2 linked regions of the Homo sapiens genome follow. The main gene of each other region encodes a partner of the protein of the gene in region 2 in a complex. Each region holds a gene or a part of one and is shown on either strand. Other genes may lie near its edges. The genes, in order: CCM2 and MAP3K3. A codon is read from its position in the direction of its gene.

The links.
Region 1: the proteins of MAP3K3 (region 2) and CCM2 are in contact, whole or in part, in a crystal structure (PDB 4Y5O), measured with the Homo sapiens proteins. Residues at the interface, in NP_002392.2 of Homo sapiens: Asp2, Glu3, Gln4, Ala6, Leu7, Ser9, Ile10, Met11, Asn12, Asp13, Leu14, Val15, Ala16, Leu17, Glu50, Asp82, His84, Met86, Asn88, Glu89, Leu90, Ser91, Ile92, Leu93, Arg117, Leu119, Leu121, Ser122, Gln123, Asp124; in NP_113631.1 of Homo sapiens: Leu299 (codon at 3,405), Tyr302 (codon at 3,396), Met303 (codon at 3,393), Leu306 (codon at 2,686), Arg307 (codon at 2,683), Ser312 (codon at 2,668), Gln313 (codon at 2,665), Ile315 (codon at 2,659), Gln316 (codon at 2,656), Gln317 (codon at 2,653), Phe318 (codon at 2,650), Ala319 (codon at 2,647), Ala320 (codon at 2,644), Leu321 (codon at 2,641), Leu322 (codon at 2,638), His323 (codon at 2,635), Glu324 (codon at 2,632), Arg326 (codon at 2,626), Glu333 (codon at 2,605), Ile336 (codon at 2,596), Asn337 (codon at 2,593), Gln340 (codon at 2,584), Leu341 (codon at 2,581), Leu353 (codon at 1,177), Phe356 (codon at 1,168), Pro358 (codon at 1,162).

What each region holds. Positions count from the first base shown.
Region 1 is NC_000007.14:45,072,922-45,076,955, reverse strand, and holds the end of CCM2 (cerebral cavernous malformations 2 protein), read right to left. Parts: intron 3,497-4,034; coding exon 3,385-3,496; intron 2,687-3,384; coding exon 2,548-2,686; intron 1,180-2,547; coding exon 899-1,179; 3' UTR 503-898; downstream 1-502. UniProt on the Homo sapiens protein: Component of the CCM signaling pathway which is a crucial regulator of heart and vessel formation and integrity. May act through the stabilization of endothelial cell junctions. May function as a scaffold protein for MAP2K3-MAP3K3 signaling.
Region 2 is NC_000017.11:63,617,715-63,625,503, forward strand, and holds the start of MAP3K3 (mitogen-activated protein kinase kinase kinase 3), read left to right. Parts: upstream 1-4,702; 5' UTR 4,703-5,045; coding exon 5,046-5,049; intron 5,050-7,789. UniProt on the Homo sapiens protein: Component of a protein kinase signal transduction cascade. Mediates activation of the NF-kappa-B, AP1 and DDIT3 transcriptional regulators.

The sequences.
Region 1 (4,034 bases), on a different chromosome or scaffold from region 2:
CAATGACGGCACAGGGAGGGTCGGCAGAGTTGCACACTGGCCTCTGAAGACCCAGCCCCCAGGCTCCAAGGTGACGAGATCTCAGAGAGCATTTCTGTTCCACGGGGTAGTGCAGGCTGCTTGAGGAAAAAACCTGCAGCATGGGGTTGGGGGGAGGGGGGGTGCGGGGCACAGCCAGTGACCTTGAAGGATTCAGTGCACAGGATGTAAAGATCAAGGTGCCCCCAACACATGCCACACACGCTACCCTCACACACGCTGCCCACGAAAGGCCTCAGAACACCCGCTCCTGCCCCACATCCACACTGCTCAAGTCCAAATCAAGTCCTTCCTGTGGCACAAGAGCCTGTTGCCTCCTCCACCCCAGCCCCCAGGGACCACTGCCGAGTCCCAGGTGCTGCAGGGCAGATGGGGACCCAGGGACAGAGGCTAGAGCGGACACCCCTCCTGGCACCGATGGCTTTCACCCAACTGGATCAGAAACATGCTTGGCAACCAGAGATTAAATTATTCACATTGCAGTAAACTTCTTTTTAAGGTCTCTGAGAGTTACAATAGGAACATCATGTGCAAAACTGACAGCCGTCCAAGGGCCCAGCCGACAGGACTGGCTCTCCCTGCCCGCTCGGCCGGGCCCTCCCCGAGCGGGGACACACTGCAGGGCTTGGCTGAGCCCTGGTGGACAAGGCAAAGAGCCTTCCACCCCGCACTGAGGCTCGTGTCCCTCGGCAGCTCCCTGCTCCTTCACAGTAGAGGACCTGGGCCGCCCGGGGCCATCTGCACCGGGCGCCTCTCCCTGGCCACCACCAAGGGCTGACACGCAGGTCTGGGCAGCTCCTTCTGGGAAGGCCTATGACGACTGCGCGGAAGGTGTGGGTGCCCCCCCATCCACTGTCCATCATGCTGAGTCCTGGTCCATGCTGCAGCCCAGCGCCTCAATGTCGCTGCTGATGTCCGAGATCATGCGGTCCCACTCATCCCCCTCTGAGGGTGCCGACCGGTCATCAGAGCTGCCCGTGGCCCTGTTCCCATTGGTGGTGGAACTGGATGTGGTGCTCAGGGCCCGCCGGTGCCTGCCAAAGCTGTCAGTGATGATGCCGCGGCCATCCTTCACGCCAATGGTCTCCAGGAAGTTCTCGAAGTGCTGGCTGTCCTTCTCAGGGATGAAGGGCCTCAGACCTGCAGACACACAACACCCAGCATGGCACCTCCAGTTCGGCTCAGCCCACTCAGCTCTTCTCTCAGGGCTCAAAGCCCCCTGACAGGGCCACAGCTGCCCCTGGTGCATGGCCTTGGGGACCCTGATGCCATGCTCACTGCATCTAGCATCCTGGTTGAAATCATGCTTCCTGGGGCCAGACAGTTTGGCTAAAACCTCAACTCTTGACAGACACTGCTGCTGGCCCTGACAGCTTACTGCCTCTGCCACATGCACACTCCCTGGCCTCAAGGCACCAGCACAGGCCAAGAACCTGTGGCCTCCTCTCATTCTCTATTAGTCCTCACAAAGGACCCATTTTACAGTGGGGAAAGCTGAGGCCCAGAGCAGTGCTCAAAGCCACCTGCTGGCACCCGGCAACAAGGGTGCAGTCCTCAGAGGCAGGCCTCATGCCAAAGTCCAGTTTCCCTGCCATGACCTAGGTGACTGTCCCAACTCAGAGGGCTGCCCTCTTATTTGGGAAGCCTAGTGTGTCTCTCAGAATCTCTACTCCCCGATGTGGAGGGGCAGACAGAGTCCCATGCCAGGAGGCAACGCAGGGCCCAGCACAGAAGGGGCAGGCACTGCTTAGACAGAACCTATTGTACAGACAGGCTGCCCCAGCCTCCAGCCCTTCACGCTCCTAAGAGCGGGGAGCCCTGGGCAGGCAATCCACGTTTGCCACTGCCAGGTCGGTACGATGGTTAACAAACCCACCTTCCTTGGTTTGCAGGGAAAACAGGCCAGGACCCAGAAGCCTTCAACTGGCTACTAGCAACACATTACCGCAAACTTGCTGTGTTCTAAGTGTCGGCAGAGGGAAACCACAGCTAAGTCACCGCCCCTGAGAGGTGTGGGGCCAACATCCAACTCTGCTGCTCAGACCACACAGCCCTCTAGCCGCACTGACCTAATGTGCCGAGCATTTTAGGGGTCTTGGCAAACGCTGGTCCTTCCGCCTTGAAGTCCTACACATTCACCAAAACCCATGCCTCTCTGGCTCCTCCAGCACTGTTTTCCTAAATCTCAGGGTTGTGTTCACTCCCAGCCCTGCTCCTGGGGGATCTCTGCTACTTCCTGGCAGGGCCCACCCAGCTCAGCTTGAGTTCCCAGGAGAATGAAGGCCTGTCGGTGGGCCCCCAACAGTACCTGGGAAAAGCCCTTCTGACTAATCACAGCAGATTCCCCGATCTCTGGACTCTGCTCTCATGCCATCTCTGGTTCAAATCTCCCATCCCTGATGGAGCCCCTGCTGCACCCACTGAGGGGTCCGTGTGCACATTCCCAGGAGGGATCAGCCTCTCCAAGCCAGGTTTGGACAAGCCACCCTCTTTCCAGGGCCCACTCACCAAGCAGCAGGAACTTGCGGCTGTCCCCGTAGAGCTGCCGCAGGTTGATGCAGAACTCGTGGATAGAGGCCCCATTGCGGTACTCGTGCAGCAGTGCTGCAAACTGCTGGATCTCCTGTGATGACAGCTTGGTGCGCAGCTGCAAGAGAGCAGAGCCAGATAGGGGGCTGGGCACAGTAGGCAAGAGTCGGCAGTCGGGCCCACCTTGCCACAGCCACTAACCCCAGCCAGAGCACCAGCTGTCTCTGGCTTCACCTCTGCACAGGCTGGGGCATCAGAATGACCACAATGTGTCCCCATCCTACCAGACCTGGCACGGGGCCACCCAGAGGAGACCAAGGCACCCGGGCAGCTCCACTCTCCTGAGCTGGAACACAGAGTGCATGGGAGGGACAGGAGCCAGCAGGGCAGGGTGGAAGTTGGCAACCTGGCCCGGGGCCAATGCCTGTGCCCTTAGGCTACACACAGGCACACAGGCAAATCAGGAAGACTTGAGTTTGCAATGACAGAACTATATAAGATGGGGAGGATAAAAATGTCTGGCCATGTGGCCTTGCAGGGGCCACCGTTCCCTCCCCTCCCCCAGGACCCAAGCACAGGCCCACAGTCCAGCCCTGACGGCCACAGCACTCCCAACTCAGCCCCACTGACTGATGCTCTCCTAGACTATCCCCAGGAAAAGGCAGTGATGTCAGCAAAATTGACCAAGAGTGCTCTAGGTGACCTCACTCACTGCAGCCTGCCCTGCACTGCTCCTCCTCCTCCTCCCCTTCCCCCCATCCTCCCTGGGGCACCCCCTCCCTCATGCAGCCCAGCGTCCCTGCAGCGGAGGCCTACCGTCAGCATGTAGTCCTGCAGCAGCTCAGTGGCGCTGGCGCTCAGCTCGCTCTCACTGATGGTCTTGCTGTGGGGTGATGCACCACCCACATCCACAGATTCAGGGAAGCAGCTGCGAAAGAATGTGGTATGTGAGCGGGTGGCTTCCCCGACCCTCCATCCCACACACGTTTCAGGAAACCTAGTCCATGCCGTGTGTGTGGGTCCCTGTCCTTGAACAGAGGAATGTAAGTGATGATGATGATGATGAGAGGAGAGCTGACTGGGCATGCAGGGTGGTCAGCTTGGCCTGGTCCTGGGGCTCCCCGGGGGCATGGCTCTGAGTTGGGCTCTGAGTGAAGAGAGGGAGTACACAGGTCAAGGCAGTGGGCAGCATTGTTGGGCAGGGGAAGGAGCCAGGGTTGGGGAGGTGGCAGGAATGGAGAGCGCGAGTGGGTGAACTACTACAGAGCCCCAGGTGGTGGCAGAGATGGGCTGGAAGGCCAGCGCCTCGGCAGGCTCGGGCAGGGGAACAGCTCCATCCAACATGCCTATTACAAGCTCACTCTTGGGAGGCCATGGGAAGGTAGGCAGGGAGAGACAAGAGGGACAGCAAGGGCTCTAGAAGTCTACGAGGAGAGGGCGGCGAGCCAGGCCTCAGCCATTCACTA
Region 2 (7,789 bases):
ACTACATTCACATATATGACTTATCCTAAGGGTGATGGGAAACTTTTTAGGGAGGGTATGGCAGAATCAGGTGTCCATTTCAGAAAGATCAATCTGTGATGTGAATATATGTTGAGAGGCTGTTACGCTTAAGTCATGCAGGTAAGAGATTTTGGTGGTTTGAGCTAGGGTGGTAAAATGGGATGGGAGAGGGATGGACAGATTGGAGACTTGTTCAAGACTGGCTGTGGGGGAAAGAAATGGAGAGAAAGAGCTATCTGATCATTCGAAGGTATCCAACTTGGGAAACTGGAGAGGGACAGAGAAAATACAGAACTATGGGGGAAAATGGTTTCAGTTTGGACCCAAAATTGGAGGTTCCTGTGGGACACCCATGTCTGTGGAGTTCAGAAGAAAGACATCCCTGAGCTAGAGACACAGTTGAGATTCTGGAATCCTCAGCGCATATGGTAACTGCAGTATGGGAATGTTTGAGATGGCTGGTTGAGACACCGACAGTGCAAATGAAGCCACAAAGAAGGCAGTTGTAAGAAAGGTAGAAGGTAAATCAGAAGGTTGTTTTCAGCTAAAGACTCAGGTAGATGTACTGCGGTTCTCCATGTGTGAGGCACTATTCTAAGTGCTGGTGATAGAGCAGTAAGCAGGACAAAATTCCTGCTCCTGCATACCTTATGTTTGTGGTAGTTGGAGTAGAGCAAACAAATAAATATATAATTTTAGCCACTGAGAAAAAAAAACAAGGAAAAAATATACAAATACAGAATGATGGAAGGGAGGGGTCATTTTGGATGGGGTGATAAGAAATGACTTAAAAGCAGACGTTTGAGCAGAGACTTGAATAAACTGCAGAAATGAGAACATCTTGGCTTGGTAGTTTCAAAGAATGGAAAGAAGGCCAGAGTAGCTAGAGGACAGTGATGGAGGGACAGGATGGAGGGGCCAGCTCCTATTGGGCTTGGCAGGTCATGACAAAGAATTGGGGTTTTATTCTGAGTGTGATGGGAGGGAAGCCATTGGAGGGCTGACAGTGGGCAGGGGGTAGGGTGGCGTGATCTGAATTACATTTTACAGGGATCACTCTGGTTGCTATTGGGGAATCATTTGTTGGGCTGCCACAGAGGAAACAATGGAGGCCAGATAGGAGTCTGGGGCAGTCATTCAGGAGAGTAGGTGGTGGCTTGGATAAGGGGGGTGGGATGAGAAGTGGTTGGATTCAGGTGTGTGTGTGTGTGTGTGTGTGTGTGTGTGTGTGTGTGTATTTTTATTGTATTTTTTTTGGAGACAGGGTTTCACTCTATTGCTCAGGCTGGAGTGCAGTGGCACAATCTCGGCTCACTGCAACCTCCGCCTTCTAGGTTCAAGCGATTCTCCTGCCTCAGCCTCCAAGTAGCTAGGATTACAGGCCACCACACCTGGCTAATTTTTATATTTTTAATAGAGATGGGGTTTCACCATATTGGCCAAGCTGGTTTCGAACTCCTGACCTCAGGTGATCCACCTGCCCTGGCCTCCCAAAGCGCTGGGATTACAGGTGTGAGCCACTGCGTCCGACCTGATTCAGATACATTTTGAAGTGGGAGCTGAAAAGATTTGCTGCATGTTTGGATATATGGGTGTCAGGGAGAGAGAATAATCAAGGAACACTCCTAGGTTTGTACAGAGGGTCTCTGACTTACTATGGTTCGGCTTATACCTTTTTTTTTTTTTTTTTTTTTTGAGATGGAGTTTTGCTTTTGTTGCCCAGGCTGGAGTGCAATGGCATGATCTTGGCTCACTGCAACCTCTGTCTCCCGGATTCAAGCAATTGTCCTGCCTCAGCCTCCCAAGTAGCTGGGATTACAGGTGTGCGCTACCACGCCCAGCTAATTTTTTATTTTTAGTAGAGATAGGGTTTTACCATGTTGGTCAGGCTGGTCTCGAACTCCTGACCTCAAGTGATCCACCCGCCTCAGCCTCCCAAAGTGCTGGGATTACAGGTGTGAGCCACTGTGCCCCGGCCTCAGCTTATGATTTTTGGCGTTATGATGGTTCAAAAGCAACACACAATTCAGTAGAAACTGTGCTTTGAGTACAACCATTCTGTTTTTCATTTTCAGTACAGTATTTGGTAAATTACATGAGCTATTCAAAACTTTCTTATAAAATAGGCTTTGTGTTAGATAATTTTGTCCAACTGTAGGCTAACTTAAGTGTTCGAGCACGCTTAAGATAGGCTTGGCTAAGCTATGATGTTCAGTAGGTCAGGTGTATTAAATGCATTTTCTACTTAACGATTGTTCATCTGATGGTTTATCTGGACATGGCCCCATGGTAAGTCGAGCAGCATCTGTGCTTTAGCAATTGGGAAAACAGAAAGGAGCATGGCAGCTCACACCTGTAATTCCAGCAATTTGGGAAGTTGAGGTGGGAGGATTGCTTGAGCCCAGGAGTTTGAGACCAGTTTGGGCAAAATGGTGGGACACCCCCAACTCTACAGAAAATTTTTTTTACAAAGGCTCTACTCTACCTGACAAAATCTTATTCCTTAGTATTTAATTTCTCTTCTTAGGGAGAATTTAAATTTAATTAAGTAATTTAAATTAAAATTTTTTCCTGGCAGGGGTGGATAATGAAAAAAAGGTTGAGAAACACTGGCCTAGTGCAAGAACATGGCCTTTGGGAGTCACACAGGCTTGGTATGAATCCTGGCTCCACTACTTGGACACAGTGCTTAACCTCTCTAAGCTTCACTTTCATCATTTAAATGCCCACAGTATTAGCATAATAACCTTAGAGTTATTGGAAAAATTAAATGCAATGACGTGCCTGTTATATTGATAAATACTAATTTTCTTTCCCCTTTATCCCCGCTTTCAAGAATAGAGATTATTATAGTTAAGGAACTCCAGTAAACTGGGTAGAGACCAAATCAAGTGGGAATATGGCAGGCTTAAGCTTGTTGGAAGAAAAAGAAAACAGGACAAGGGGGCTGATTAAATATACGGAGATGAGTGTAAAGAAATAAGGGAGGCTGCTTGCAGTGGCTCACGCCTGTAATCCCAGCACTTTGGGAGGCCGAGGCTGGCGGATCACCTGAGGTCTGGAGTTCGAGACCAGCCTGGACAACATGGCGAAACCCCGTCTCTACTAAAAATTCAAAAATTAGCCGGGCGTGGTGGCGCACGCCTGTTAATCCCAGCTACTTGAGAGGCTGAAGCAGGAGAATTGCTTGAACACGGGAGACGGAGGTTGCAGTGAGCCGAGATCGCGCCACTGCACTCCAGCCTGGACGACAGTGTGAGACTCCATCTCGAAAAATAAAAAAGAAAAAGAAAAGAAATAGGGGAGAGCCCAAGGTAATTCTTAAGGGATTTGACACTCAAGGCAAAGCCACCACTAAATGTTCTTAGTGGACAGTGGACAATGACATCTGAGGAAGATTATTCTGGAGCCTGACATATTACACTGGAACAGAGGCCGGAGAAAGGAGCCCACATTAATTGTGGTGGACTTGGAATCTGAAGATCTGAGTGTATAAAATGTTGAACAATGAAAAGGTTGGGGAAATTAATTATGGTGCCTTTAATTTTGAAACATCATGCAATCAGTACAATTGTTTTGGAAGGATATTTGGTGGCACGGGAAAACAGAATAAAATGTAAGCATACTACAAAACAATACAAAGCCATTTTTGTCAAACGCCTATCTAGGTAGGAAATAGATTATCTCTGGGGTGGGATCTTTTCTTTTTCATAGTTTTCTGCATTTTTCAATTTTCCTACAAAAAGCTCGTGTTGCTTTTATAAGAAAAAAGTTATTTTCTGAAAGAACCTCTGGCGGAACTCAGATTTCCAGGGACCCACATGCCAGCACTATCCCAGCCTCGGGTGTCTGAGGTACCTAGACCAGAGGGTGTGGCCCTGGAGGTGTGAGACAGGGAAAGCTGGGCTGGGCCGGCCGCCCCTGCCCGGGGCAAGAGCAGCGTCGGGACCGGAGGACCAGTCGGGGGATGGGGCCGCAGAGGTGGCCGCGCGCCGGGAAGTGCTCAGGCCAGACCCTCCCCACTCGTTACACGCCCTGTGCTGGGCACGGGGAGGAGCAGGACGCCACCCTCTGGAACCACCCAGATCGCTGGGGCCTCCGAGAACCCGGAGGGCGGAAGGCCTGAGGGCCCCCTGCAGCCGCCTACTCCTCACCCCAGCCCTAAAGTAGCCGGCGGGGAACTGCGCCAGCCCGCGCGCCCGCCGAGCCTTCGGTGACTGACGGGAGGTGGGAATGTGGGCGGAGCCTCACGCCGGAGCTGTGATTGGAACAACCAACACCTCCCAATCTCTCCCAAGAGAGGGAGACAGCACCAGAGAGGGATGCGCAGAGGCGGGGGCTTAGAGGCCTCTACGTGATTGGCTAACAGCGCAGGGAGCCGGGCGCTGTCCCGATGATTGGCAGGCGCTAGACAGCCCTCGGAAACCGCCTTGGCTTCGCCCATTGGCATCCTGTGAGAGTAGGCGGGATTGGTTCATCGTGTGGTGCTGATGATTAGCTGGCCGCTGAGAGTTAGGGTGTTGGGAGAGAGTTGGAGGGGGACGGCGGGGGCTGCCGACTTCCTTCTTGTTATTGGCTGGTGAGGTGGGTGGGGGTGGTGCGACGGCCCAGCGGCTGCCTGGGATTGGTGGGGGCCGGCGTGAGTGACAGACAGGGGGGCGAGCTGCGCGACCAGCGGTTTGTTTTTCGGAGCGTTCCTGAGGTGGAGAACGGTGGCCGGACGGAGAGACTGCGGGTCTGAGGGACTGGCGGGCGGGCGGGCCGAGCGGCGCCGCCGAGGCCGGGCTGGGCCGAGCCCAGGAGCGCCCGGGATGTAGCGGGCCACCCTGCCGATGCCACAGCGCCCGGCCGCGGGCGGAGCCGGAGCCGGAGCCTGGGGAGGCGGCGGGGGCCCAGAGCGCAGCCCGCGCCCCCCGCGCGGAGCCAGGCCCGCTGCCGTCCCCGCCGCCCGGGCCCCCGGCATGCAGCCCCGGCTGCGGAGGTGACACTCACGGACCTTAGCCACCGCCGCCGCCATCGCCACCATGGGTAAGTGTCGCCACCGCCCCGGCCTGTGCCCGCGCTGCTTCGCGACGCCCCGCCCCAGGCTGAGGGAGGAGGACCCTGGGCCACCGCCTGACAGGCATGGACAGCCCGCCCGGCCCGGGGCTGCGGACCGCCGGCCGGCCGGCCGCCCGCCCCGCTCGCGCGCCGCGGCCCGGGCGGGGGTTCTGGCTCCGCGGGGCGGCCCGGCCGGCAGAGCCCGCTCGGCAGCCCTCCTTCTGGGCGGCGCGGCGGGCGCATCCCGGGGAAGCGGCGGCGGGACCGAGGGCCCGTGCTCCGCGGGGCAGCCTGGTCCGAACGAGCCGGACCGCGAGCCCGAGGGCGGGGGAGCAAGAGCGCAGTGTGGGGCCCGGGCTGGAGGCTGCCGCAGGCCCAGCTGCTGTTGTGTCTTTTCCTTGATTTGCTTTTTTTTCCTGCCTGTGTCATTTCCTTCCCTTTGCTCACACAGGCCGGCCTGTGAGAGTTCCCGGGGCTTGCTCTCCAGCCCTGTGCGCGCCCCAGCGCAGGGGGGAGGGCGTGCGGGGCTCGGCTAGGAGGCGATTAAACTGGAGCTGTGATCAAGCGCGCGGTTGACAAATGCGTGCTGCACGCAGATTGCTGGGGGTCAGGAGTTGGTCGGATGCTGCCAGTTAGAATTCACATCCTACTTTTTGAAAAATCCCGTTGCAGGGGTTTAATCCATTATTTTTTTCTTGCGGTATCCCTGAAATTATGTAACTTTTGAAAGAAACATTTGCTACACAAAAGAATTTCTCTGAAATCACTTCCTTTTTGTCAGTATTTACAATTTCTACTGTGAAGATGTAATCTAAGGAAAGCTTTTAATGTCTTCCGCACGTAGCATTTGAGTTGAATTATATTCCATATCCTTTTTGGTAGTTTAGCAAATGACTACTGGACTAGACTAAGAAATAACATTTTAAACGTTCTTTACTTCTCCTGCCCAGACAGGTGTTGTGATACTGTTGTCACAAGTTTTGCAAAATATTTGGTATTGCCCTAAATAATAATAAAAGGGTAAACTTCAGTGAGAGGATCGTTTGCAAAACGTTCCGTTGCTTCTGTGAAGTGCCCCATGTGAAGAGGGAGCCTTAATGTTTGCCTTGCCCTATAGCAAGGTCAAGTCCTTTTTGTAGGAGGTTAACTGTACGCTATGTCAAATTCGCCAGATATTGTTTTGTGACCCATCTCTACACCCTGGCTTTGAATGAATTGCCTTGTTCTAGTTCATGCTGTCCCTCATACAGTATGAGAAGGGTTTGTTCATTTGCTGGGCTTACTGTTTCCTTCTCATGCTTTCCTTCAGAAGTGCGTGCTCTTCTGAGGGAAGGTCTGCTGTGAGAGTGGACATAAAAGGAACCCAGTAAGGCCTGGTATTTAAATATATAATTGAAGAAATGTTTATTGAATTTTTTTATAGATGAGACACAGAATTCTTGTCTACCCCAGGATTCAAACATTTATCTTGTATTATAGATTTTGAATAAATCTTCGAATTGATTTATGAGCCTGTATTGTGATAGTCTTTCTTACAAGTCTTTTTTCTTGTCCTGTGGGGGCAGCTGTTAGTCCCAAAGGAGAGTGTGAAATACTTAAGGGTATGTAGACCATCCACTTCCTACTTTGTTGACTGCTACACCAGTTAGAGTGCCCACATGTGTTGACTACATCTCATTATCTAACATGAAAATAGATATGAACCTGTTTTCACATTTCAAGACATTTTCAAAAAGTTTATAAGTGTGTGAGTATATGGAGACCAATGATGGGGAGGAAGGAAACTATATAGGCTGGGTCTAGAGCCCCAAAGAAAAAAGGGCCAGGACCTCAGGATCTTCTCATTTGTCCCCACATCAGTTGTCCTCCTGTCAGTTTTACGTGAAGACACATGTAAAAGGAACATGCAAGAGGAATTAACTTCCCTGGTGGCTGCAGTATATTAGGCAAGCTAGTTTAAGAACCACTGCCCTAGCTTTCTTCACTTTCCCCCATACAATTCTCTCCATCTTTTTTGTGAGGGGAAAGTAGATGACCTTGATACACTGTTAGAGCTAATATTGAATTCTTCTTGACACCTGGCTGTTCAATTTGCTTTGTATAGAGCTCATTGAGGATATGTATACACAGATACATTCACACACAGTCTCTCTCTTAAATACTAGTTTCCATTTTGGTGATGAAAATTTGAATTTCCAGTTTAGTTAGTTTGCTTTTAGTTGCTGTAGTTCTAAATAAACTCAAAGGATTGATAAGAGAGAAACATAGACTTCTTAGTATTTTAGTTATACTTGTTAAACTCCAGCCTCATGAAGAAAGGACTAAAACTTGAGTCTCTGCCCTGCAGGTTCTTTGGTTAAGTAACAGTCACATTTTCCTGAGCTGTTCTAAGCCCAAGACTGAAGCCTGTTTGACAACTTGGGTTAATAAAAACATGTCAGATTTTATATTGTCTGTTAGCCCCAATGAATTTCTAGTGGAAATTATTTATCTCTGTAAATAATAGGAAATTTTTTTTTTTGCTTTGATACTATGTGGCTATAAAAAATTGGGATTGACTGGTTGTTTTTTCTTGGTCACTCCAGAATTCATTTCCAGATTTAGTAATCATAGTGGCAAATGCTGTTCATAATACCTGAGATTGTTTATGTGGTCTTTTTATAAACGCAGTCTGAAACTTTATATATCACTGAAAAATATGTAACAACTTGGAAATGCTACAGGAAAC